Linked DNA regions of Homo sapiens. The protein of the gene in region 6 purifies or fractionates together with the protein of the main gene of each other region. This does not show direct contact. Each region holds a gene or a part of one and is shown on either strand. Other genes may lie near its edges.

Region 1 (4,068 bases), on a different chromosome or scaffold from region 6:
GTAGTAATGAGCGTGCAGCTGCCAATGGTTCCAGTTGGCCCCAGCCTCTGATCCTGTGGGAGCCCCTGACAGAAAGAAGAGAGACAGTGGGGAGAGAGAGCCCTTTTACAGTTATCCAGGTTAGCACCTACTCCCAAACCCAACCAGGTATCTGAAAACTACATCTCCCAGGATCCCCTGCTTGAGAAGAGCTGGCAGGAGATTAGAAAGCACATTGGAGATGTAGTTTCACCAAGTTTGCTGCTCCACCCTCAGTCCCAGCATCTCTACTCTGGCCACTTCCCCCAGCAACTGTTTCAAGGCTTGCTCCTTTGAGGTTGCAGTTCACTAGGCTGAGCCCCAGGAGCCCAGAAATGGTGTTGGGGCTAAATATAGGTACTTGAAAAGCCTCACCATGCCAGCCCATGGAGTAGGGAAAGGACGTCTCAAAGAGGTTGTCATACTTGGTCAAGAGCTTCTTCATGATGGAGGCTAGATCTGGAATCAGAGCCTGACTCTCAGCCTGGGGTCCAGATGCTGACCCTACTGGGAGCAACCTCCATCCAGTGCCTAGCCCCAGGATCCTACTTGGGAGACTGACCATCACGCTCAGCAGGGGTCAGCTCAGGTAGCCGCCGCACATGCCGACGGGGCAGCAGCAGTGTCTGGTAGGGCCATGTTGCCCAGAAGGGGACCAGTACTAACCAGTGCTCACTGGTTAGGACCAGACGTTCCTAGGAAGACAGAATGGATAGGAAGTCATCAAGGTGACATAGGAGCCGGAGTGTGGTCAGCAAATAGGCAAGGGAAGCAGAAGAAAAGAATGTGCCCAGGATCTGATGTCTTCTCACCACCTCTACCACTAACCACCCGAGTCTAAGTCACCATCATCTTTCCTTTAGATTACTGGATTATTGCTAAGGCCTCCTAGCAAGTCTCTCTCTACTAGTTCACCTCTAGCTTTCTCCTTTACACACCTCTCTCATGGGATAAGAAAGTTAGGGACTCCTTGGGGACACAGGGCTTGGCTCTCTCCCACCTTCCTGAGTAGCTCCTGGCGGCTGTACTCCATTAGCAGGGGCTCTCCATGCTGACTCTTATAGGCCTGCTGAGATCGCTCCTCACGCTGGGCAATATCTGGCAGGAAACTGCTGGCCCATACCTGTCAAGGGGCAAAAGCAGAGAAGAACAGGCAGGTCCTTTACCTCCAAGCCTCCACATCATTGGCATATTTCCTCTGTCCCATCCATTAATCCTGTTCCCATGTCCACAGTGCTGGCTCAGACTCAGCCAAGAAACCCACTGGAGCCCCTGACACCCTTACCTGGCAGTGGGGGTGGGGGTTAGAACAGCCCATCATGGCACCTTTGTTTTCAAAGATCTATCAGATAGGGATACGGAGCTCTGTTAGCCAAAAGACACCAAGTCAACTCCCTCCTGACCACACCCTGTGGAAACAGAAATGTTACTCCCCAGAACCAAAGCTTCATCACCCCCTCCCTGCCCATCCAGGGGAAGGGGCGACCTCACAAACCTGCACCCAAGGGTACTGGGCACCCAGCTCCTCTGTGACTGAGGCCCATGCATCAACAACAGCCCGGATCTCAGGGACCGACATGAGTGGCAGCGTTACATCCGACCAGGGGTGGAAGCACATGACCTTACTGGGTGGTGACGGGAGAAAAGATAACCGAGAGGTAGGGCTTGGCTGTGCTACGGGCAGGGCCGAACCCCAATGCTGAGTCTCCAACTCTGGTTTGAAAGTTGTAAGAGGGGAAATCCATAGTTACCAGACTCCTCGAGCAGACTTTGCTTGGAAAAGGGGATGATCACTGGGTCCTGAGGTAAAGGAGTATCACTCTCTGCAGCAGAAGTCCCTCAAGAGGTCTAGCCACCCTCCTCCCCAGCAGCAGTTGGAGCCAGGTTACCTGGACTGGGGGCATCAGGCTGCAGAGCTGGGAAGTCGTTGTCAAACAGGAAGGTGCTATCGTACTGGGGATTCACCTACCGACAAGGATAGGCTAGAAGCACTCACTGCCCCATACCACCAGTTACCTGGTGGGCTTCAAAGACTGGACAGGCTACAAGGGAGTAGGGAAGGCCCACCCTAGGGGACCAAAAAGCTTGGTGGGATATGACCCAGAAGGAGGTTCACTATCCCTGTGGGTGGAGGACAGTTCTAAGAGGGAACTACTCCCCGTGGCCCAGCCTGCAGATGCAGGGCTCTACAGGCTTACCTCTCCGTTGGCTCGGATGGCCCCAGGACACAGAGGGTTGAGAGGGTCATGGCGGGGCACTGTCTTCAGAAGCTGGGGCTCCACTTGACCCTGCCAGGGCCGCTTCATGCGGTGAGCTGACACCAGCACCCACTCATCCTGCAGCGGGTTGTAGCGGATATGCTGATGGTCTGGGGGCAGACAGTCAAGATCAGTCCTCAGAGCTCTCTAGCTCCCTCTCTCCTGGGTCTCACCCACCAGCAGGCCCAAGCTCGGGAGCGCCCTCTCGGCCCTGTCCCGCTCAGGAGCTAGAGGCCCAGGATTGGACTTTCCCAGCGCCAATTGGCCTGCTGCTCGTACAGGCCTGCAGACTGTACGCCTTGTCGGTCTGGCTCGGGATGAGCGTTCCAACCTTCGGAGGGGACGAAAGCTTCCTAAGGAAGGGGAGGGCTCGGCTCCGCGCCCCAGCGAGTCCCTGCCGCGGTGCAGTTACCGTTTGCCCGGAAGGTTGCTGCTGCGGCGTCCGCCTCTGACGCCTGCTGGCGTTGCTGAGGATCGGTTCCACTGCGCGACATGAGGCCACCGGGGGATCCGCTGGAAAATCTGCAGGGCCGTGCCTCACCTTTCACTTTCTCCGTCCACACCACCCCTCCCCGCGCCGCCCCCGATGATTGGCCAGCCGCCAGCACGTGACTGACTGACTGGGCTGCCCTGCCACCTGGGGGCGGGGCTCAGAACAGCTGTGAACCCTGGGGGCCGACATTGATGATCCTACTTCACCCAGAGCTAGAGCCACTACACTGGAAGAACCTCTGTGAAAGCTGCCTACTGCAGAATCCTTGGGCTCCAGGATGCCTACAGGACTTGCTTGCTGCAATCATTCATTTGATCTTTCATTCAGCAAATATTTACCAAGCATCTAGCATGTGCTAGGCACCTAGGCTGTGTAAAGCATTGGGATGCACATGTCAGGCATGGCCTCTGCCCTGCCTGAGCTTACATTCTAGGGCGAGTAAGGATATGACCCTGGATCAACAGCGCCTCAGTCACCTGCTCAGTGGCTGTAGCGCAGGAGAGGCAAACTTGGTGGGGTCTGTGTGGAGTACTTCACCATAACCATATCCTATCCCCAAAAGCAAAAACAGATTTGGGAAAAAGGGCTAAGTAACCATATTCTCTTTTTCTCTCACTCTTGCTCTCCTTCCTCTCTCTCTCTCTCTCTTTTTCATACACACACCAAGACAGCACAAGAAGTGGGAGGGGTAAAAGGGCTATAAAAAAAAATCTAAAAATGGCCGGGCTCGGTGGCTCACGCCTGTAATCCCAACACTTTGGGAGACCAAGGCAGGCGGATCACAAGGTCAAGAAATTGAGACCATCCTGGCCAACATGGTGAAACCCCGTCTCTAGTAAAAAAAAAAAAAAAAAAAATTAGCTGGTCTTGGTGGCGTGCACCTGTAGTCCCACCTACTCGGGAGGCTGAGGCAGGAGAATCACTTGAACCCAGGAGGCAGAGGTTGCAGTGAGCCGAGATTGTGCCCATGCACTCTAGCCTGGCGACAGAGCAGACTCCGTCACAAAAAAAAAAAAAAAAGTACAAGAAAGTCTAAAAATGTGGAGAGTACAGGACTATCAGAAGCTCCAGCCACCATCTAGGTGGGGCCTAGTGTTTCCTTTACACATCCCCTTCCCTTTTCTAAATTTTCCTTGGATGGGACCAATTGGCTAACACTAGGATAAAATTCAAATTAATTCCTCCCCTGGTACTTTTGTTTGTTTGTTTGTTTGAGAGAGAGTCTCACTCTGCCACCCAGGCTGGAGTGCAGTGGCGTGATCTTGGCTCACTGCAACCTCCACCTCCCAGGTTCAAGCG
Region 2 (2,997 bases), on a different chromosome or scaffold from region 6:
GTCATAGCATTTTTGATTTACCTGCTAGAGATTCTATAATTTCCTGGTTGACTAGAAAGCCATACTCAGTCAAATTCCCATTCTGATATTTAAAAAAAAAAAAAAGAAAATCTCAAAAACAGTTGTACGCAACACAGAAAAATCTTCCTCTATTACTAATTTAAACATAGATTAAACTCCATCAAAGTCAGGAAGTCATACTTACACATCATCTATACAGAATAGCTGTCAGGGGCACACAGGGTCTTAGGACACATTGCAGCTGGGCAAGTTTATGCTGCAACCACTACAAAAACATGGACATTGCCTCAAGACACCACAGTGGTATTACAGGAGGAGGTTTGGCAACTGGAGTTCTAGCAAACAACCTAAACTGGGTGACCTCATGCAAGTCACTAAACTTCTCTGGATTTAAGATTCTTTGTGTATTAACAAGCAATTTTAATGGGATGATCCCTTCTAACCTTAAAATTCTATTCTTTTCCTGCTTTCATGGAGTCTTGAAATTTAATTCCAGCATACACGTTTGTAGGGCTTTCTTTCCCAGAGCATACTGTTCATGACTATAAAACGTGTCCTTTATAGTAAACCACTTACTTTTGGTCTTCGCATTCTAACGAGTCTACATATACATTTTGGAAACAGTACATATATGATCCGTAAACGCCTTGGCCTTGGACTGGCAAATGAGAGCATATAAGGATGAGGTCTTCAGAAAAACACTTTTATGACTAACCACGTTGTGCTGTTAAAAAGAGACTTGCATATTGTTTCTCCTGCTTTACCAAATCAAATGCAGCTGTAAGATCAATTCTCCTTCCCTGTAATCTGATCTTTAGAAAACAATGATTGCGTGACACAGTTTCCTTACAGGTTTGTCCAAAAACCTCTTGCATAATAAATTGAGTTTAAACTTTACGGCCACAGAGGGATCATATTTCACCTAAAAGTCAGGCATTTCTTTTCATGCTTAAGTTTCCAACAGAGGAAGTCATTTGTTGGAGAGAGCACACACCACATGCAACTTTCTTACAAACACAAGGGTGAGTGAGGAAAGGAGAAGAAAAGTTAATTGAGTCCCGCAAAGAGAGAGTTTTGAAAAAATGGCTGATTGGAAACCAAGTGCCTGGCAAATGCTTTGAGGCTTTAGCAGTGGAGCCACCTGCTGCCCCTAGCTCCCAACCCCCGATCTGCAGCCTCTGAGGGTCCCATTAGCTCTAGGAAGCCTCTCTTTCCTCATCCAGGCCAAGTCACACGAGTTGGCAGAATGGGGGGAGGTATACTGTATTCCCTCATTATAACTGGCATGACTCTTTCTGCCCTCCCTCATAGCACTGAAAATAAAAGTGAAGGAGATAACCTACATCAACCGAGATACCAAAATCATCCTGGAGACCAAGAGCAAGACCATTTACAAGCTGAACGGTGTGTCCGAAAGGGACCTGAAGAAATCGGTGCTGTGGCTCAAAGACAGCTTGCAGTGCACCTGTGAGGAGATGAACGACATCAACGCGCCCTATCTGGTCATGGGACAGAAACAGGGTGGGGAGCTGGTGATCACCTCGGTGAAGCGGTGGCAGAAGGGGCAGAGAGAGTTCAAGCGCATCTCCCGCAGCATCCGCAAGCTGCAGTGCTAGTCCCGGCATCCTGATGGCTCCGACAGGCCTGCTCCAGAGCACGGCTGACCATTTCTGCTCCGGGATCTCAGCTCCCGTTCCCCAAGCACACTCCTAGCTGCTCCAGTCTCAGCCTGGGCAGCTTCCCCCTGCCTTTTGCACGTTTGCATCCCCAGCATTTCCTGAGTTATAAGGCCACAGGAGTGGATAGCTGTTTTCACCTAAAGGAAAAGCCCACCCGAATCTTGTAGAAATATTCAAACTAATAAAATCATGAATATTTTTATGAAGTTTAAAAATAGCTCACTTTAAAGCTAGTTTTGAATAGGTGCAACTGTGACTTGGGTCTGGTTGGTTGTTGTTTGTTGTTTTGAGTCAGCTGATTTTCACTTCCCACTGAGGTTGTCATAACATGCAAATTGCTTCAATTTTCTCTGTGGCCCAAACTTGTGGGTCACAAACCCTGTTGAGATAAAGCTGGCTGTTATCTCAACATCTTCATCAGCTCCAGACTGAGACTCAGTGTCTAAGTCTTACAACAATTCATCATTTTATACCTTCAATGGGAACTTAAACTGTTACATGTATCACATTCCAGCTACAATACTTCCATTTATTAGAAGCACATTAACCATTTCTATAGCATGATTTCTTCAAGTAAAAGGCAAAAGATATAAATTTTATAATTGACTTGAGTACTTTAAGCCTTGTTTAAAACATTTCTTACTTAACTTTTGCAAATTAAACCCATTGTAGCTTACCTGTAATATACATAGTAGTTTACCTTTAAAAGTTGTAAAAATATTGCTTTAACCAACACTGTAAATATTTCAGATAAACATTATATTCTTGTATATAAACTTTACATCCTGTTTTACCTATTCTTTGTCTTCTGTCTTGTCTTCTTAGTAAAAGGAACTGGGAATGGAGCTATGTATGGGTGGTCACTTCCTTCCATGAGCCCAGCCCTCCAGCAGTTTAAAGTGATCTACTTCTCAAGTGACTCAGAAAGTGTCTCCCCCTCCACCACCATGCCCCACATCTCACAGATTTCACCACTTTCACCCTGTGGAAGCAGCGACTTGCAGCCTCTAGAAAGGGGTTGCCTTCTTTTGACCCTTCTGAGCAGTCCAGCTGCAGCTATGTGGAAACATTACCCTAAACTTAAGGTTTATGAGCTTTACAGTTGTGCTTTTCATTTCCTGAGATTTTTCATACCGAAAAAGAATCACCACTGCAAAAATGTTAATTCCTTCCCCGACTCAAATCTAACCCTCAGATAGAGAGAGCCATGATTTGGAGAGTATCCACTGGAATGCAAGGAGGAGGAAGGGGATGGTGAAAACTTGAACTAGGGTAAAAAAGGAGAGACAGACATCTG
Region 3 (3,500 bases), on a different chromosome or scaffold from region 6:
TAAATTAATTAATGCCCCTCTAGTCAGGATTTGTACTCTGTAGATACCGCAAACATTCCTTCTTTATTTGTATGTCTGTCTTATGAAGGCATTTGAGTTTGTGACCTCTGCTGTGCATACTCTTATACCCATACTTTATTTTTATTATTTATTTATTTATTTTAAAGAGATGAGGTCTCACTGTTTTGCCCAGGCTGGACTTGAACTCCTGGGCTCAAGTGATTCTCCCATCTCAGCCTCCCAAGTAGCTAGGACGACGGGCACACACCACCACACTGGGCTCCATTATTTCTTTCTTTCTTTTTTTTTTTGGAGACAGAGTCTCACTCTGTGGCCAGGCTAGAGTGCAGTGGTGCGATCTCGGCTCACTGCAACCTCTGCCTCCTGGGTTCAAGTGATTCTCCTGCCTCAGCCTCGTGAGTAGCTGGGACTACAGGCACACACCACCACGCCCAGCTAATTTTTGTATTTTTAGTAGAGACGGGGTTTCAACATGTTGGCCAGGCTGGTTTCAAACTCCTAACCTCAAGTGATCTGCCTGCCTCTGCCTCCCAAAGTGCTGGGATTACAGGTGTGAGCCACCACGCCTGGCCTCCATTATTTTATTATTATTATTATTATTTTAACTAAATAGTATTTCCTAGAGATAAAGTTCACTACCTCACTCCTTTAATAACTGTCCAGTGTTCCACAGTGTGAATGTAGAAATTTACTTAACCAGTTTTTGATGGATATTTAGGCTACTCACAAGAAACTTCTTGTTTTTTTTTGTTGTTGTTGTTGTTTTTGAGACAGGGCCTTGCTCTGTTAGCCAGGCTAGAATGCAGTGGCATCATCACAGCTCACTGCAGCCTTGATCTCCTGGGTTTAAGTTATCCTCTCACCACAGCCTCCTAAATAGTTAGGACTCCAGGCGTATGCCATCAAACCTGGCTAATTTTTATATTTTTTGTAGAGGTGGGGTCTCAATATGTTGCCCAGGCTGGTCTCGAACTCCTGGTCTCAAGCGATCTGCCTGCTTCAGCCTCCCAAAGTGCTGGGATTACTACAGGTGTGACCTGTCAGGCCTGGCCCTTTTTTTTTTTTAAACTACATTATAGCTCTATGGATAGTAAAAAGTTAGATTCTCAACAGGAAATTCATAATGTAATTTTTGGTATCCTTAATCTGCTAAACAGTTGGGCAAATCTAATTTGGTCAGAACTATCATCCTAGTTTTTTTGTTTTCAGTTGTTTGGAAAGATTTGATTCCTCTCCACTCTTTTTTGTCTTCTTCCAACATCTCATCTTTCTTAGCTCATGTCAGCTCAGTCCTCTTTGATGTTTTGGAACTGTATGGATGGGCAGCTTGTCTATGGACTAAATTTACTAGTCCCTAGATGCTGTTGGGATTTTATAAGTATATCCCATGTACTATTAATAGATGTTCAACCCAATACATTGTGAAACCTATCCTTTTACAAAGAAAATGATTATAAAAATTTACTGTCAGTAATGTACTTTTTTCTTTGAAGTAAAATAATCTTTAATAAGATAGTAGTAGTTTGTATGTAATAGTGGTCCCATTTTCTAAGAGAGTGAATAAGAAAATGTGACATTTAGGCCGGGCCCGGTAGCTCACAGCTGTAATCCCAGCACTCTGGGAGGCTGGGATGGGTGGATCACCTGAGGTCAGGAGTTTAAGACCAGCCTGGCCAACATGGTGAAATCCTGTCTCTACTAAAAATACAAAAATTAGCCAGGCGTGGTGGCAGATGCCTGTAATCCCAGCTACTTGGGAGGCTGAGACAGGAGAATCGCTTGAATCCAGGAGGTGGAGGTTGCAGTGAGCCAAGATCGTGCCATTGCACTCCAGCCTGGGTGACAAGAGTGAAACTCCATCTCAAAAAAAAAGAAAAGAAAATGTGACATTTTCCTTCTTGTGGTTGGACTCTATTCTGGTTATTGAGCAGAAATGAAACCAGCTTACCAACTTTTATAACTTTTGATTTTAGAGAAGTTGACAAGTGAGATTCAGAGTCGGGAAAATAAATGCATGGCTATGTACAAGAAGCTGAGCAGGTGGCCAGAGTGCAATGCCCTTTCCCGGCGCCTCTTACTAAAAAAGTGAGTAAAAGCTTTCTTTTGTACCATTTGACTGTAGTGAGGCTTTAAGACCTCACTATTGATTTTCTTGGTGTCTGTGTTTTGAAGTTTCTGGGCATAAAGTCTTCTTATAGTAGTTGTGTCCTGCATGTTTCTAAAAGTTTTTAAGGAGCCTTCATCTTTCAGTAGAGTATTATAATGGTACTTGTAGGCTGGGCATGGTGGCTCATGCCTATGATCCCAGCACTTTGAGAGGCCAAGGTGGGCAGATCACTTGAGGTCAGGAGTTTGAGACCAGCCTGGCCAACATGGCGAAACCCTGTCTTTACTGAAAATACAAAAATTAGCTAGTTGTGGTGGTGCGTGCCTGTAGTCCCAGCCCCTCGGGAAGCTGAGGCACAAGAATCGCTTGAACCTGGGAGGCAGAGGTTGCAGTGAGCTGAGATCATGCCACTGCACTCCAGCCTGGGTGACAACAATGAGACTCCATCTCAAAAAAAAAAAAAAGATACTTGTGCCACCATGGTGCTGAATTCTAGTTAGGGCTTAAGAATGAACACTGAAAATCATTAATTTCTCAAATTCAGTATTCCCCTAAAAGAGAGAGGCTTCATTCTTTGCTACAACACTTCTCTCCCCTTCCCTCTATTTTGGAAGTGCTTATGTGGGGACTTTTCTGTTATGAATATTAGTTTTCTAGACCTGGTCATTTTATTGAAGGAAAGAGTAGTTTACTACTCTTTACAAATACAAAGTAGTATTACTTTGAAAATGCCCTTTTAGATTTGCAAAGGAAACATGGAGTGGGTGGGGGTAAGCCAACCTACTACATACTAAAATATAACTTACAAAATAAATTGAATATCATGGTTCCTAAGGAAGATCTGTCACAACTTGGGTTTAATCCTGTGTGCATCATTCAATCTGATTTTAGCTCAGATGACTGGCAGTTCTATCTGACTTATTTCGATTCTGTCTTTCGACTGATTGAAGAGGCCTGGAGTCCTCCTGCTGAAGGTGAACAGTAAGTTGTCTTCTTTCCTGAATTATAACAGCACTTTTTAATATAGTGTAGTGAAAGGATTTCATTATAAGCCAATTGAATTCTCTTTTTCTGTCTCAATAAAGTATTCCTTTCAAAGTAAGACATTTTTTCATATTTTTTAAAGTATAAAATACACAAGTTCATTCTAAAAATCATGTTAGTGCCAAAATATGTGGTGTGCTAATTTCCACTTATCCTACCATTCCAAAAATAACTCTTGTTAATAGTTTGGTGCCTTTCCGTGAGATTTATTTCCATCTTTATGCTAAGATAATTTTTCTTTTTCTCCTTTTTTTTTTTTTTTTTTTTTTTGAGATGGAGTTTGGCTCTTGTCACCCAGGCTGGAGTGCAATGGCACGATCTTGGCTCA
Region 4 (3,500 bases), on a different chromosome or scaffold from region 6:
AGGTGTAACCCTAAAACCAATAAATCAAGAAACAGATTAGGCAGATTACTTGGAAATTTGGAATTAAAGGCTAGAACAGACAGGTAAAAGTATGAGAGGAGGTCTCAGAGATAAGAGAAGGATGGGGAGGTGGGGAGAAGAAGACTAAAATTTTTTATCATGAGAATTATAACATTACTTTTATTATATTGACAAAAATCAAAAGTAGTTAAGAAGAACTCAAAAACTAAACTTATTATCTCCTTCCCTAAACTTGTCCTTACTTCCCTATTTTTCATCTTGGTTGGAAATACTCCCATCAACTCAAGTACTAAAGCCAGAAATCCAGGATGTATTCTTTATTTATCCATTTTTCTCTGGCCCTGCATTCCCACAGCCAATCAATCACCAACTGAATCTCCTAGATGTTCTTCAAATTCACCTTCACCTCTCTAAATCTACTCTCATGGCCTAATCCAGTTCTTTATTGTGACTTGCCTGGACTACTGCAAACCTCCAAACTAGTTTCCAACCTTGACTTTAACTCCTAATTAAATGAATCCCTCTATACTTCCCTCATGTGCTGCTGTCTCTCCTATTGAGGTGGCATCACTGTCTGGGGTAAATACCTGGGGTTCGCCATCTCATGCCAAGATTAAGGACATGGACACGCACAAGGAGTGAGTTTAGGAGCAGAGGTTTAGTAGGCAAAAGAAAGAGAAAGGAGAACACTTCTCTCTCTTGCAAGAGAGGGGCATCTGAATGGGAAATCTGGCCCTCCGTGGAGTGCACCAGATTTTATAGACAGGCTTGAGGAGGTGGTGTCTGATTTATATAGACAAAGATTGGCCCACAGATTGGCTGGACCAGGTGTGACATTTACATAGCATGCAGGGAAGCTGGCCACCTCACCCTAACCTTATTAAGCAAATGGGCTTTCCACTTGGCCAGCATTACTGTCTGTTCCCTACTGTACACATGGTTGGAAAGGAAAAGGGAAGACGGAGCTGCCATTTTGAACATGCCTAGCCCAGGTAGCCTTTTCCTATTGGCACAACTGCCGGCATTCACCTGTGCAAGCTTCCAGCTTACTTGTCTATGTGTGTAGCTCAATTTTATAGGCAGGCTGCTCTTTGTTAGAAAAGAAAATGATTTGGGGTCTGCTTTTCATTAAAAGGAAAACCTTACCGAGGACTCCTGTACTCTCACTATCTGCCCAAATAATTTCTTCTTAACGCCTATATCACTATTTTGGGAGGTCATAGAATTTATAGCATTTAAAAATTTGTTATGCAGCAATAGATAACCAATACAGAGGCAGGAGAAAAGCATAAGTAGGAAGTGGAGAAATAGGATGGAATCTAGAGAAGTCAGTAGAGAGCTGATCAGGGAGAGTTTTCTAGATATGCTAAGAATCTTTATCCTCTAGTGACTAGGAACTACTGAAGGGCTTGATAATTTGAAAAGAGTACTATGAACATCAATGTAAGGATGGACTTAAGCCAGAAAGACAGCAGGCAGGAAGGCCAGTTAATATGTTTCACAATAATCTAGAATAAAGATGACAGGAGTTTGAACTAGGGCTGGAAACTAGTAATAATAGCGTGGAGAGGGCAGACTTAAAAATAATTAGAAGGTTGACTGGGAGCAGTGGCTCACGCCTGTAATCCCAGCACTTTGGGAGGCCAAGGTGGGTAAGATCACCAGAGGTCAGGAGTTCCAGACCAGCCTGGCCAACATGACAAAACCCTGTCTCTACAAAAAAATACAAAAATTAGCCAGGCTTGGTGGTATGTGCCTGTAATCCCAGCTATTCAGGAGGCTGAGGTGGGAGGATCACTTGAACACCGGAGGCAGAGGTTGCAGTGATCCAAGACCACGCTGCTGCACTCCAGCCTGGGCAAAAGAGCGAGACTACGTCTCCAAATAATAATAATAAGAAGAAGAAGAAGAAAGTAAAACTGGAAGAAACTTGTGATTATATATTAGAGTTGAAATAGAACAAAGAATCTAGGATGATCCCAGATGTGACTTAGATGGCTGGGTGGGTGGACAGTGGTGCCATTAACCGAGAAAGAGAGAGACCCAGATCCCTGGGAGTGAAAATCAGCTCTGCTGCTAATCAGTCTAAGATGCTCCCAACAGAACATTAACAATGTTTCTATATACCCAAGGCCACTCTGCAGCTGCAGTATGATGGACAGTCCTTTTTTCTGAGCAACTGCTGTATTCTTACCAATGATAGCGCTTTGTCCCTCCCATCTCCTGAACAGAGACTGCTGAGAGTCTAAGTTCCTGAGCTGCCACGGGCACTTGGCAGCAGCTAATCCAGCGGGTACCTCTTCCCTGATCCCTCCTTCGACTCATTCAGCACAAGGCCAAATATTTCAGAGGCCTCTTCCCACTTCTCCCAACCTTTGGGTATGTGTCCTCCTTTGCTGGACATAATGCTAACACACCTAACTTTGTGTCATTACACATGTATTTCTCATATTCTCTGCTGAGTGGGTTTCAACTTCCATCCCACTTGAAAGGTGTGCTGAGAAAAGGTAGAAGGAGACTAAAAAATAGGGAGAAAAGAGACAATAAAGCCAGACCGTAGAGGATGGCTGCGGGCTCCCTATAGTACATTACATTCTAAGACGAGCAGGAAAGGCTCTGCCACAATTCCTGAATGTACAAGGTCAAAAGTTCCAGCCTTCACTTTGCCAACAGGTATATCCTTGGGCAAGCCAATTCACTTCTCCCCTTGGACTTCAGTTCCTTCATTTGTAAATTCTGGAGATTAGATGGACTATATAATTCCCAAAATCCCTTTCAGCTTGGAATGTCTAAGATTCTAAAAATGCAGCCAAGGAGATCAGGCTAAAACTGCTTCAGGCTTTGAGTCACAGGGATGATTCACGCAGGCTACCTTAATGAAAGAACTTCCACATCTGCTCTAGGTGCCCTGAACCTACACATTTCTGTCAGTGTTCGTAAGACAACCTAAGAAACCTAAGAAAGGCTATTCTTGGGGGGGCAGGGGGGCTACAACACTGATTAAATTACATGTTTTTTAAGCACAGATTTTTTAAAAATCCTATTAAAATTCTAAATCAGTGGCTTCCAGCAATTTTTCTCTGAAACAGACGTCTCGGATTTTGCAGACACCAATGTTCAGGCACACGTGTACACAAGAATGGTGGAAAGAGTCATGGTTTTACATGGAGTGTGCAGTCTGCCAGCTCAGAAATCTCCTGTGTCCCAACGGCACAGGCGGTTCATTCTCCTGCCAGCCAAGTTAATTCTACCAACATGCCAATAGTTAGAAGGGGAGAAAACAAAACAAAACAAATTATTTCCACTTGACTTGCTGATTGCTAATAATATTCTTCATCAAGTAACCCAGGCAGGAACACTTTTCATCTTCAGAATTAGCTATGGCTGCCATTTCCCCTTTTGTCAAATACAGGGAGATATTTCCCACGGTCTGCACATGACTCAGAATGGCTTCATCTTTATTTCACGTTCTACATTTC
Region 5 (3,500 bases), on a different chromosome or scaffold from region 6:
AGAGGATTCCTCAATTTGCTTCCTACTGACAGCATGAGAGTCTGATCTTATAACGTTCATAAAAGGATAACTCTGTACAAAATATCTAAGGTGAGAAAGAGCAACCTCTTCCTGAAACTCCACAAAAAGCCCTACAATTACCAACATTTTTTTACCTTTATTTCCTCTTTGGATGAGAGCTACTCAACAAGAGCCATAGTGGCAGTTCCAATTAGAGAAGCTGAAAGGATTACAGTATAATACAAAACTCTCCAAAAACAACCCAGAGCTTGGGCTACTCAAGTAAATAGGAATACTGTTCTCAGTGTGGTAGTCTACAAGGTTCTTGGTACCTGTGGGCTCTGTGAGCAGTGCCAAAAGCATCATTGACATAGACATCCCCTAGCTTGGAAAGTGAAGCTCGGAAAGCTTCTATTTTGGCTGGCTCGGCTTTAACCTATAGAGAAAAACAAAAACAGAAAATGTGATGGCTCCAAAGACAACTATAAAAGCATTTCATACACCAAGAGTCCTCTTGAACATCTCTAAAGACCCTGAGTAGGTGGGACAGCGATTTTTTACAACCAGCAGTAGGATGTGTTCTTTCTTCCAAATATTCCAGATACTTTGGTCATTTCTGCATGTTTCTGCTCTCCCTTAACTTCCCTCAAATTGCAAACCTAATATTCCTGAACGATGGCTTTACCTCTAATCACATGAAGTTAACCACACCCCACTAGCCTCTCCCCAGCCTTCAGCTCAAGGTTCTGATTATCCTTCCCTCTCCTTGACTTAGTTCCTCATTTTAAACATTCTCCTTGTGATAGTATCATACTTGACTCAAGCTGCTGGCTACCAAGGCCTTTCTGCGAAGTGCAAGGGGCTCTCACACATATTCCTCATAAAAGCAACAAGGGCAAGCTGGGACAGAGAAGGCAGATGGAAACATGACAACAGAAAAGAACCTCAGAAACACTTCACATTGACAAAAAGGTATTTTATGACCTTCTCTGGAAGCTAGGCATCTGAGAAAACAAGAAATATACTTCTACAAAAAGAGAGGAAGAAAATGTAGAAGTTAAACATAGAGCTTTAAAATGTCAGCTTGCCATCAAGGCATACCCCAAAGGGGACAGAAAGCAAGATGGGAGGATAAGCAAACCAGAGAGTCTCTGGCAGGAGATTAAGCAAAGAGGCACAGGAAGCAAGCCAGATGAAAGGGGACAGGACACAGAAGAGTACATAGCACAAAGCAGATGTTCATTTTAAGTCACTGCCCACTCCTATGCTCCTATGTATCAAGGAGGTGAAGGGGACTGCCATAAAAAATGGGGCTTTTCCCTAAAGATCCAAAGAATTGCAGAGGCACTAATGCTAAAATTGAAGATTGTGGCACTCCCATAAGCTCTGTAGACTACAATAACATCTGCCACTAGTGATTGGAAGATGACACATGTAGTAATGATAACAATGCTCAAATGTAAGGAGACCTGAGTTCTATGTCCAGCTCTGACACTAATTCATTGTGTCACCTTTGGGAAGTTGCTCTGAAATTTTCCCTTCTATCAAAAAGGCATAATAACCCCTCCATTTACGAACTATTTAAGGAGGCCAGGGGCAGTAGCTCACACCTATAATCCCAACACTTTGGGAGGCCAATATGGGAGGATCACTTAAGCCCAGGAGTTCGAGATGAGCCTGGGCAACATAGCAAGACCCCGTCTCTACCAGGAAAAAAAAAAAAAAGTAAAGGTCAGTTGGACATGGTGGTATGTGCCTGTAGTCCTAGCTCCCTACAAGGATGAGGCAGGAGGATCACTTCAGCCCTCAAGTTTGAGGCTGCAATAATTAATGTCATGCCACTGCACTCCACCATGGGCAACAGAACAAGACCCTGTCTCTTTAAAAAGATATTTAAGGAAAAACAGGGTAAATTGAAAGCTCTTCATGAAAAAAGGTGCCATGGAAATAATATCAATCAGAACCCATTTCTCATTTACTGATCTGCAAATAACTAGAAGAAAGAGAAGGCCCTTAAAAGATCAATGTGGGCACTTTGGATAAAGGGAAAATGTTTATGTCCTCATATCCTCACTTTGTTTTTGTGGTTTTTTTGAGACAGAGTCTTGCTCTGTTGCCCAGGCTGGAATGCAGTGCTGCAAACTTGGCTCACTGCAACCTCCACATCCTGGGTTCAAGCAATTCTCCTGCCTCAGCCTCCGGAGTAGCTGGAATTACAGGCACTTGCCACCATGCCCGACTTTTTTGTATTTTTAGTAGAAACAGGGTTTCACCATGTTGGCCAGGCAGGTCTCGAACTCCTGACCTTGTGATCCACCCACCTCGGCCTCCCAAAGCGCTGGGATTACAGGCATGAGGCACCGCACCCAGCCTCACTGTTTTTTTAATCCATTTTGAACTTGGGACTGACTCCTGAAATTTCAGGTATTAAAAGCCATTAGATAGTGAATGTCAAGTCAGTTTACTAAAAAAGTCATAGACTACATAGTCAGCTCATCATTTCCTAAATAAAAAGTTTTGCTTCAATATGCCCTTTGCCTCCTGCCACTTCTAAGCCCTAGAGTTCATGCATCATGAGTTCCAGATTAAAAGGACACCAAATTTTAGGTCAGCATTTGACTCCTAATACTGCAGCAAGACCATGCCAAAAGCAGGATAAGGCAAGACCAGCATCTTTGGTGCTAAAAAAAGAAACTGCTTGAAAGCAGGCACTCCCAATGACCTTAATAAATGTGAGAAGCCAAAGGAGACTGAGACACTAGACTCAGAGCATCTTGTTCTCCGAGATACTAAAGACCAGAATAGTGGAAAGTACTAAAAAATGCCTTCAGCTTCCTTTCTAGTCAATGGGCAAATTCAAAATCATCTGCAAAGAGCCAGTTTTATCATTGAATATTTGAATTCTGGTTGTCAGTTCACAGTAATCTGTTTGGTGAGTTATCTATGGCTGCTTTTGCACAACATCGGCAGAGGTGAGTAGTTCCAACAGAGACTATATGCAGATGGAAGTGACTGCACAACACAGAAAGCCTAAAATATTAACTATCTGGCCATTTATAGAAAAAGTTTGCTGATTGAATGGGCTGAGCTCTAAAGACCAACAGCACCACTGCCTCTAACTTTAATCGTATGACTGCCTTTCAGAAACTTAAGTTTTTTTTTTTTTGAGACTTAGTTTCTTTATGAAATAAGTCGATACCTGTACCTCTATCTTAAAGAGAGATTTAAAGGAACATACTTTACACATCTTAAGAAAATGCCTTAAATCCAAGGTGACATCATCATGACCATCATATTCACTGAATACTCTTTCACCTCAAAGGTGTTCACATATTTTTCAAACATATTTAAACACCACCTGAACATGAAGGAGGGCTTCTGGGATGCTGGTAATATTCTATTCCTTGACCTGGGTGGTGGTTACACAAGTGTGTTTACTTTGAGATAACCCATCAAGCTGTGTCGGCATTGTATGCTTCAATAAAAGGTGTCTAAGTTAA
Region 6 (3,500 bases):
CTTTTTTTCCTGTAGTATGTCTGTACAGCTGCATACTATTTCTTTTCCTTTTGTTCATGTTTAAATCTGTGAAGACGGCCGGGTGTGGTGGCTCACACCTGTAATCCTAGCACTTTGGGAGGCTGAGGCTGGTGGATCGCCTGAGGTCGGGAGTTCGAGACCAGCCTGGCCAGCATGGTGAAACCCCGTCTCTACTAAAAAAAAAAAAAAATACAAAAATTAGCTGGGCGTGGTGGCAGGCACCTGTAATCCCAGCTACTAGGGAAGCTGAGGCAGGAGAATCGCTTGAACCCATGAGGTGGAGGTTGCACTGAGCCGAGATCACGCCACTGCACTCCAGCCTGGGTAACAGAGCAAGACTCCGTTTCAAAAAAAAAAAAAAAAATCTGTGGAGACATTCTAACTGCTCTGCTACCGCTCTGATACACTGTAGACACATTTTCTTAGACATCTCTTCCATCTTGCCTGCATATATTTGTCTCCCTGTTTGAACTATAGTTTGCTTTAAATCCACTTTCTTAACAAACAATAGTTTTCACAAAACCAAGCTTTAGCCAACTGAAATGCCACCCTTTGTAGAACCTTGAAATTGTATATGACAAAGGAGGTTACAGAAGGATATCCCAAAGCACAAAGAATTCAACAAGAATCATACTGTCATTTAAAGTATTCCCCACATTTAAATCTTATAAGTGGGGCATTTTAAAGTTATTTTTAAAGAAAAAAATTATTTTAAATCTGATTCCATGTTCATGGATTTCTTCCACAGACTCACAATAGAAACAAAAGTATAGCAACACAGAAATTTAGAAACAGAGTATCTCAAAAACTGCTAACAATCCTCGTTAAACTACTTCCTTTAATTATGACACGAGGCTAAAATTTAAAGTAGATATTAAGCGAATGATACAATAAAGGAACTAAGGAAATCTGAAGAATATCTTAAAATAACAACATTGGGCCGGGCACAGTGGCTCACGCCTGTAATCCCAGCACTTTGGGAGGCCAAGGTAGAAACCCTGTCTCTACCAAAAAATACAAAAATCAGCCAAGTGTGATGGCGCATGCCTGTAGTCCCAGCTACTTGGGAGGCTGAGGCAGAAGAATCACTTGAGCCTGGGAGGCGGAGGTTGCAGTGAGCTGAGATCATGCACTCCACCCTGAGCAACAGAGCAAGACTCTGTCTCAAACAAAAACCAAAAACCAAAAAATAGTAACATCTATTACTCTTCTAACAGGAATCTGTTAAACTGGTCCCAACGCATACAAAGTGCAGCAATATACTGCCTCTGAATAAGGATAGAATCATTTTCATGTTACCAGTTTCAAAAGGCTTAGGTTAAGATTTGTTTTCAAACAAAATATTCATCAAATCCATCCAAATACTGTGTACTCTGGGGCCTGCTCATCTTCTGAAATGCTCACTTTGAGTTCTAAGCACTGCCAATGGCTATTAACTTATTTCAGGTTTTGTTCTTTTGTTGTGTATGAAAGAAGAGAAATTCACTTAGGGATGTGCTTATCTGGCAAATGAATGCTCACATGCTCAGTTTCATTTAATTCAGCCATTGTCCACCTCAAGAGTAGATCCTACCTTTCCTCAAAAGGCAAGAGACATCAAGCAACTTATTTCAGCACATTTACAATACAAACACTACAAAGAGGCTATAAAGTCCTTAGCTAGGTAATCTCACGGTAAGTTTTTTAGTCTCAGAATCTCCTCTGATCTTTGACAGGTGGACACCCAGGTCCCCTCTGTTTGCCCTTAAATTCTCTCAGTTCAGCCTTTCCTTCCTATTAGTCTTTCTCAGATGTTGATCTTTCCTTGTCACATCTCTAAAATGATTTCCAAATAATAAGTTGCTTCCTTTCAGAATACACCTAACCCATACCTTCCAAGACCAGTTATAAGCCCTAGAGATGCAAGTCAATTTCAAAAAGTGAGCTCATTTCAACCACGTCAACTTTCAACTCCATTCTAAAACACAAGTTGGAAACCCAATCAACTCAGTGGGATTTACTAATCACATTAAGTTCTGTCTCTATAATTTAAGCTAATGTGATCTAACAGTTTGCCGTATTTTTCTGGAGTGGGGAGTGGTTAACTGAAGCCCAACATCAGTTTTAAGTCTTCAAAGACAAGGATTAGGTTACAACTAAAATTTCCTTCTCTTTATATATTCATAACATCCCATAGCTCAGTGCCTAACATATGCTGATTCACTCCACTTAACATATGTTATATATATGTAACCATGACCATTTTGGGTTACATAAGGTATTGTTTCACTAGGGAATCCATATAAAACATGGTTTTCTTAAATAGTTAAACATGGTACATCGTCTTTGTAGTGACTACAGATTTAACAATCTGATTCATAACAAAATATGGTTTAGGAAAGATTTAAAGAGCACTAGTTGACATGTTTAATACTGTACAAAGCCCTCTCACCATAAAAACACCCAAAGATTTATGGAATATCTACTGTATGCTTGGCCCTACAGCAGATAACTCCAGTACACTTGAGTGGCAAAACTATTTCTTTTTTAAAAAAAGCGGGGGTGGGAGGCTAGGGGAGGGATAGCATTAGGAGAAATACCTAATGTAGACAACAGGTTGATGGGTGCAGCAAACCACCATGGCACGTGTATACCTATGTAACAAACATGCACATTCTACACATGTACCCCAGAACTTAAAAAAAAAAAAAAAAAAGGCTGAGAGCAGTGGCTAACGCCTGTAATCCCAGCGCTTTGGGAGGCCAAGGCGGGTCAATCATGGGGTCAGGAGTTCGAGACCAGCCTGGCCAACATGGAGAAACCCTGTCTCTACAAAAATACAAGCCGGGGGTGGTGGCACACACCTGTAGTCCCAGCTACTCGGGAGGCTGAGGCAGGAGAACCACTTGAAACCAGGAGGCGGGAAGTTGCAGTGAGCTGAGACGGTGCCACTGCACTCCAGCCTGGGCGACAGAGCAAGACTCCATCTCCAAAAAAAAAAAAAAATTTTAATTTTCTCTGAAAATTACCAACTTCCAGGCAAAAACCACTGTAGTAAGAAGACTTATCCAATCTACTGCCCACCTTGCAGTCTGTATTTCACAAGTAAAATAACAAGGGAGGGGCAGCCTCTGTCAAGAAAGAATATGGCTCTGATCATCATACTGGCCTAGAGGGAAAGGAACATGCCTGCCAGCAGAAGACTTCAGGGTTTGCCCTAAGAAAGGTGACTTGCACTCATTTTGGATGAGGCATGAGTAAAACATCCTTTACCCAAAGATTTTTAAATTTTTTTATTTTTATTTTTATACTTACCACTACACTAACGAGGACCCAAAGTTTTTTGGTTACTCAGCCAACAGAAACTGGTCTAAGCAAAACAGGCCCCCAAGATCTATTTCTGAATTCAACATATGCTAGGTTGCTTGACTGACTAGGGTAAAATTAGGTCTTTGATAAGAAGCTAACAATTCTAAAATTCATACTGAAATGAAAGCTAA
Region 7 (3,500 bases), 5.1 Mb from region 6:
TCTCCAACTCCAGGGTTCAAGCGATCCACTCTCCTTGGCCTCCCAAAGTGCTGGCATTATAGGCATGAGCCTCCCAAAGTGCTGGGATTATAGGCATGTGCCTGGCCAGTTGTTACTATTGTCCACATTTGCAAAGCCCTCATTCTTTTTCTTTTTTCTTTTCTTTTTTGTTTTTGAGACAGGATCTTGCTCTGTCGCCCAGGCTGGAGTGCAGTGGCACAATCATGGCTCACTGCAGCCTTGACTTCTGGGCTCAAGAGATCCTCCTACCTCCGCCTCCCGTATAGTCTGGACCATAAGCAAGCACCACCATGCCTGGCTAAATTTTTTATTTTTATTTTTTATTGAGACTGGGGGGTGGTCTTGAACTCCTGGTCTCAAGCAATCTTCCTGCCTTGGCCTCCCAAAATGCTAGGATTACAGGCATAAGCCACCATGCCCAGCTAAAGCCCTTACTCTTTTTTTTTTTATTTAAATCTTTTTTTACAGAGACAGAGTCTTACTATGTTACCCAGGCTGGTCTTGAACTCCTGGACTCAAGCTGTCCTCCCGCCTCAGCCTCCCAAAGTGCTGGGATTACAGGCGTGAGCCACCATGCCTAACTAAGCTCTCATTCTTAATCACTGTACTGTTTATTAGGTATATTGTGGTCTTAGGATATTATATGATCTCTCCGTTTAATTTCTTCATTTGTAAGGGTATAAAAATATTTACATTGAGGGTTTTAAAAATGAGATTAAGTGAAATAATGTACTTATTTTTTCAACAAATGTTTACTGATCTCCTACTGTGCTGGGATGAATACCAGGCATTGTTCCAGGTCCCGGCAAAGCAAGACAGCACAGTCCATACCCCAACAGAACTTAGAATCAGAGGTGGCGAGGCCAGACAGTAAAGGGCACACCAGGCAATTTCAGGACATCTAAGCACTGGAGAGGAGACAACACCTTTAGACACAGTGGTCTGGGAAGGCTTACTGGAGGAGGTGACCCCTGGCCTGAAGCCCTTCCCATGAAAGAGAGTGAACCATGCAAAGACAGGGGAGGAGTGGTCCAGCCTGCCCAGAGTGAGTGCTGAACCTCGCTTTCACCAGCAAAGCAAAGGAGATTGGGGTACTTCCTTGTGTGGAGATTGTTTTTAGAAGACAGCACACTCTGTCAGCTAGACTAGATCTTACTGTGACAAAAGACAGGCCAGGCCAGCCAGTTTTTCACAGTCTATTCCAGCTTGCACATTTATAACCCTTCTTCACAGGGCACTGCAAGCATGGGTTTCTGAGAACCAATCTTTATAAAAGTGCCTTGAATTCCTTGGTAATTATTTCCTTTTAAGCGTGTAACTCTTATTATTGCTAAACTGCTTTTTAAGTTAATGGTAGTTGTTGTCCAAAGGAAGTCTGATCTGTGTTTTTGAAACCTCAATGATCGTCTGTTTCTAATTAAGGAATTGGATGAAGACATGCATCAGAAAATTGCAAGGGAGATGAACCTCTCTGAAACTGCTTTTATCCGAAAACTGCACCCGACAGACAACTTTGCACAAAGTAAATATGCATTTTTTTTTTTTAAGAACTGTTCTGTCGCACGGGCTGGAGTGCAGTGGCATGATCTTGACTCACTGCAACCTCCGCCTCCTGCGTTCAAGCAATTATTGTGCCTCAGCCTCCCGAAGTGCTGGCATTATAGGTGTGAGCCACCACACCTGGCCTAAATATGCACTTTAAAATAATTCTTGAATGACATCAGAAATTATTTTTTAGGTGGGGGAATGATCTTTAAGGAAAATGCCCCCTTATTATTTGCATGCAGATAGTAGATAGAGCGGGAGATTCTGATTTGGTTTCGGTTCATTTGGGGAAGGGGGTTTTGGTGAATCTGAATGTTTCCATTCCAGATCTAGCACTGGGGAGCCCTAGGATGCTTGCCTAGCCATCATTCCTCCTTTTACAACATGTTTTGGCTACTCATCATGCTAGAGAACTATATAGGAAAGAAGAAAATGAGAAATCTGTGACCTGCTTGCATGGGAATGATCTCATCTCTCTTTGGCTTTTCCTATCCTCAGGTTCCTGCTTTGGACTGAGATGGTTTACACCAGCGAGTGAGGTCCCACTCTGTGGCCATGCCACCCTGGCTTCTGCAGCTGTGCTGTTTCACAAAATAAGTAATGTGATTTTCTTTAATGAATCTAACACTTAGCAAATGGCTTTTTTTTTTTTAAGTTCTCACACACACTTTTTCTGATGGTCCAAAGTGACTGGTATAAAGACTCTGCAGAGTTTACTTCATGCTATTCATAATGCAGAAACAAAACCAGCGACCTTCAATAGCACTTTGGCCTTTCTGAGTATGTGCCCAGCATCATTGGAAAGCTGCGATCAGAATGCTATTTTATTTTATTTTTATTTTATTTTACTTTCTGGTCTACAAAGAATTTGACAACCATTTTATTTTATTTTATTATTTTTTGAGACAGAGTCTCACTGTGTTGCCCAGGCTGGAGAGCAATGGCACGATCTTGACTCACTGCAACCTCCGCCTCTCTCCACCTCCTGGGTTCAAGCGATTCTCCTGCCTTAGCCTCCTGAGTAGCAGGATTACAGGCGCCCACCACCACACCCAGCTAATTTTTGTATTTTTAGTAGAGATGGGGTTTTACCATGTTGGCCAGGCTGGTGTCAAACTCCTGGCCTCCAGTGATCCATCTGCATCGGCCTCCCAAAGTGCTGGGATTATAGGCGTGAGGCACCATGCTTGGCCTCATTTTAAACTGGAGATCTCTGGTCTTTGTGAAGCTTGCATGGGCAGAATTGTCATCTCATACGATATGAGATTGGAGATCAACAGGAACATTTCACTCCAATTATTTCCGCTCCCACATTGAAATTCATTTCACAATAAGAGATTCTTCAATAAACATTTTTTTTTTTTTTTTCTGAGATGGGGCCTGGCTCGGTTGACCAGACTGGAGTGCAGAGGCAGGATATCAGTTCACTGCAACCTCTGACTCCTGGGCTCAAGCCATCCTCCCACTTCAACCTCCAAAGTAGCTGAGACCCCAGGTGCACACCACCACACCTGGCTAATTTTTGTATTTTTGTTAGAGACAGGGTTTTGCTATGTTGCCCAGGCTGGTCTCAAATTCCTGAGCTCAAGTGGTCTGCCCACCTTGGCCTCCCAAAGTGCTGGGATTACAGGCATGAGCCACCACGCCCGGCCAATAAGAGCTTCTTTGCTCTAAATTTGAAGATTCCTGGGCCCCCACTGTATACATTCACCTTAAAAGGAGTTGCAGCACCTTAATTCTGCCAGTTTCTATCTTAGCTGCATTTAGTTTAATGGACAAAGATCAGGGCCTTGTGGGGATGGGACAGAGAAGAGATTCCTGGGAAATGCCCTAAAACAGGAGATGGAAGCAGCCACAAACAAGCATAGACAGCAAACGGAAATGGAAACAAGGAAAGAAACAGGATGATAGGACAGAATGTCACTGTGGGGGAT

Evidence for each region.
Region 1: the proteins of NRBF2 (region 6) and GALT purify together in Homo sapiens (affinity purification with mass spectrometry; 3 studies listed by BioGRID and IntAct, with this or other methods). This does not show direct contact.
Region 2: the proteins of NRBF2 (region 6) and SFRP2 purify together in Homo sapiens (co-immunoprecipitation; one large-scale study listed by IntAct). This does not show direct contact.
Region 3: the proteins of NRBF2 (region 6) and NAA25 purify together in Homo sapiens (affinity purification with mass spectrometry; one large-scale study listed by BioGRID and IntAct). This does not show direct contact.
Region 4: the proteins of NRBF2 (region 6) and CPVL purify together in Homo sapiens (affinity purification with mass spectrometry; one large-scale study listed by BioGRID and IntAct). This does not show direct contact.
Region 5: the proteins of NRBF2 (region 6) and PGK1 purify together in Homo sapiens (affinity purification with mass spectrometry; one large-scale study listed by BioGRID and IntAct). This does not show direct contact.
Region 7: the proteins of NRBF2 (region 6) and PBLD purify together in Homo sapiens (affinity purification with mass spectrometry; one large-scale study listed by BioGRID and IntAct). This does not show direct contact.

What each region holds. Positions count from the first base shown.
Region 1 is NC_000009.12:34,645,407-34,649,474, reverse strand, and holds the start of GALT (galactose-1-phosphate uridylyltransferase), read right to left. Parts: upstream 2,801-4,068; 5' UTR 2,771-2,800; coding exon 2,689-2,770; intron 2,387-2,688; coding exon 2,217-2,386; intron 1,984-2,216; coding exon 1,908-1,983; intron 1,819-1,907; coding exon 1,770-1,818; intron 1,644-1,769; coding exon 1,514-1,643; intron 1,361-1,513; coding exon 1,304-1,360; intron 1,142-1,303; coding exon 1,019-1,141; intron 714-1,018; coding exon 581-713; intron 478-580; coding exon 394-477; intron 66-393; coding exon 1-65. UniProt on the Homo sapiens protein: Plays an important role in galactose metabolism.
Region 2 is NC_000004.12:153,780,091-153,783,087, reverse strand, and holds the end of SFRP2 (secreted frizzled-related protein 2 precursor), read left to right. Parts: intron 1-1,332; coding exon 1,333-1,637; 3' UTR 1,638-2,497; downstream 2,498-2,997. UniProt on the Homo sapiens protein: Soluble frizzled-related proteins (sFRPS) function as modulators of Wnt signaling through direct interaction with Wnts. They have a role in regulating cell growth and differentiation in specific cell types.
Region 3 is NC_000012.12:112,074,284-112,077,783, reverse strand, and holds part of NAA25 (N-alpha-acetyltransferase 25, NatB auxiliary subunit), read left to right. Parts: intron 1-1,994; coding exon 1,995-2,106; intron 2,107-3,019; coding exon 3,020-3,109; intron 3,110-3,500. UniProt on the Homo sapiens protein: Non-catalytic subunit of the NatB complex which catalyzes acetylation of the N-terminal methionine residues of peptides beginning with Met-Asp, Met-Glu, Met-Asn and Met-Gln. May play a role in normal cell-cycle progression.
Region 4 is NC_000007.14:29,136,538-29,140,037, forward strand, and holds part of CPVL (probable serine carboxypeptidase CPVL isoform b precursor), read right to left. Parts: intron 1-3,500. UniProt on the Homo sapiens protein: May be involved in the digestion of phagocytosed particles in the lysosome, participation in an inflammatory protease cascade, and trimming of peptides for antigen presentation.
Region 5 is NC_000023.11:78,114,248-78,117,747, reverse strand, and holds part of PGK1 (phosphoglycerate kinase 1), read right to left. Parts: intron 437-3,500; coding exon 333-436; intron 1-332. UniProt on the Homo sapiens protein: Catalyzes one of the two ATP producing reactions in the glycolytic pathway via the reversible conversion of 1,3-diphosphoglycerate to 3-phosphoglycerate.
Region 6 is NC_000010.11:63,146,828-63,150,327, reverse strand, and holds part of NRBF2 (nuclear receptor-binding factor 2), read right to left. Parts: intron 101-3,500; exon of another isoform or gene 1-100. UniProt on the Homo sapiens protein: May modulate transcriptional activation by target nuclear receptors. Can act as transcriptional activator (in vitro). Involved in starvation-induced autophagy probably by its association with PI3K complex I (PI3KC3-C1).
Region 7 is NC_000010.11:68,294,929-68,298,428, reverse strand, and holds part of PBLD (phenazine biosynthesis-like domain-containing protein), read left to right. Parts: intron 1-1,443; coding exon 1,444-1,543; intron 1,544-2,064; coding exon 2,065-2,163; intron 2,164-3,500.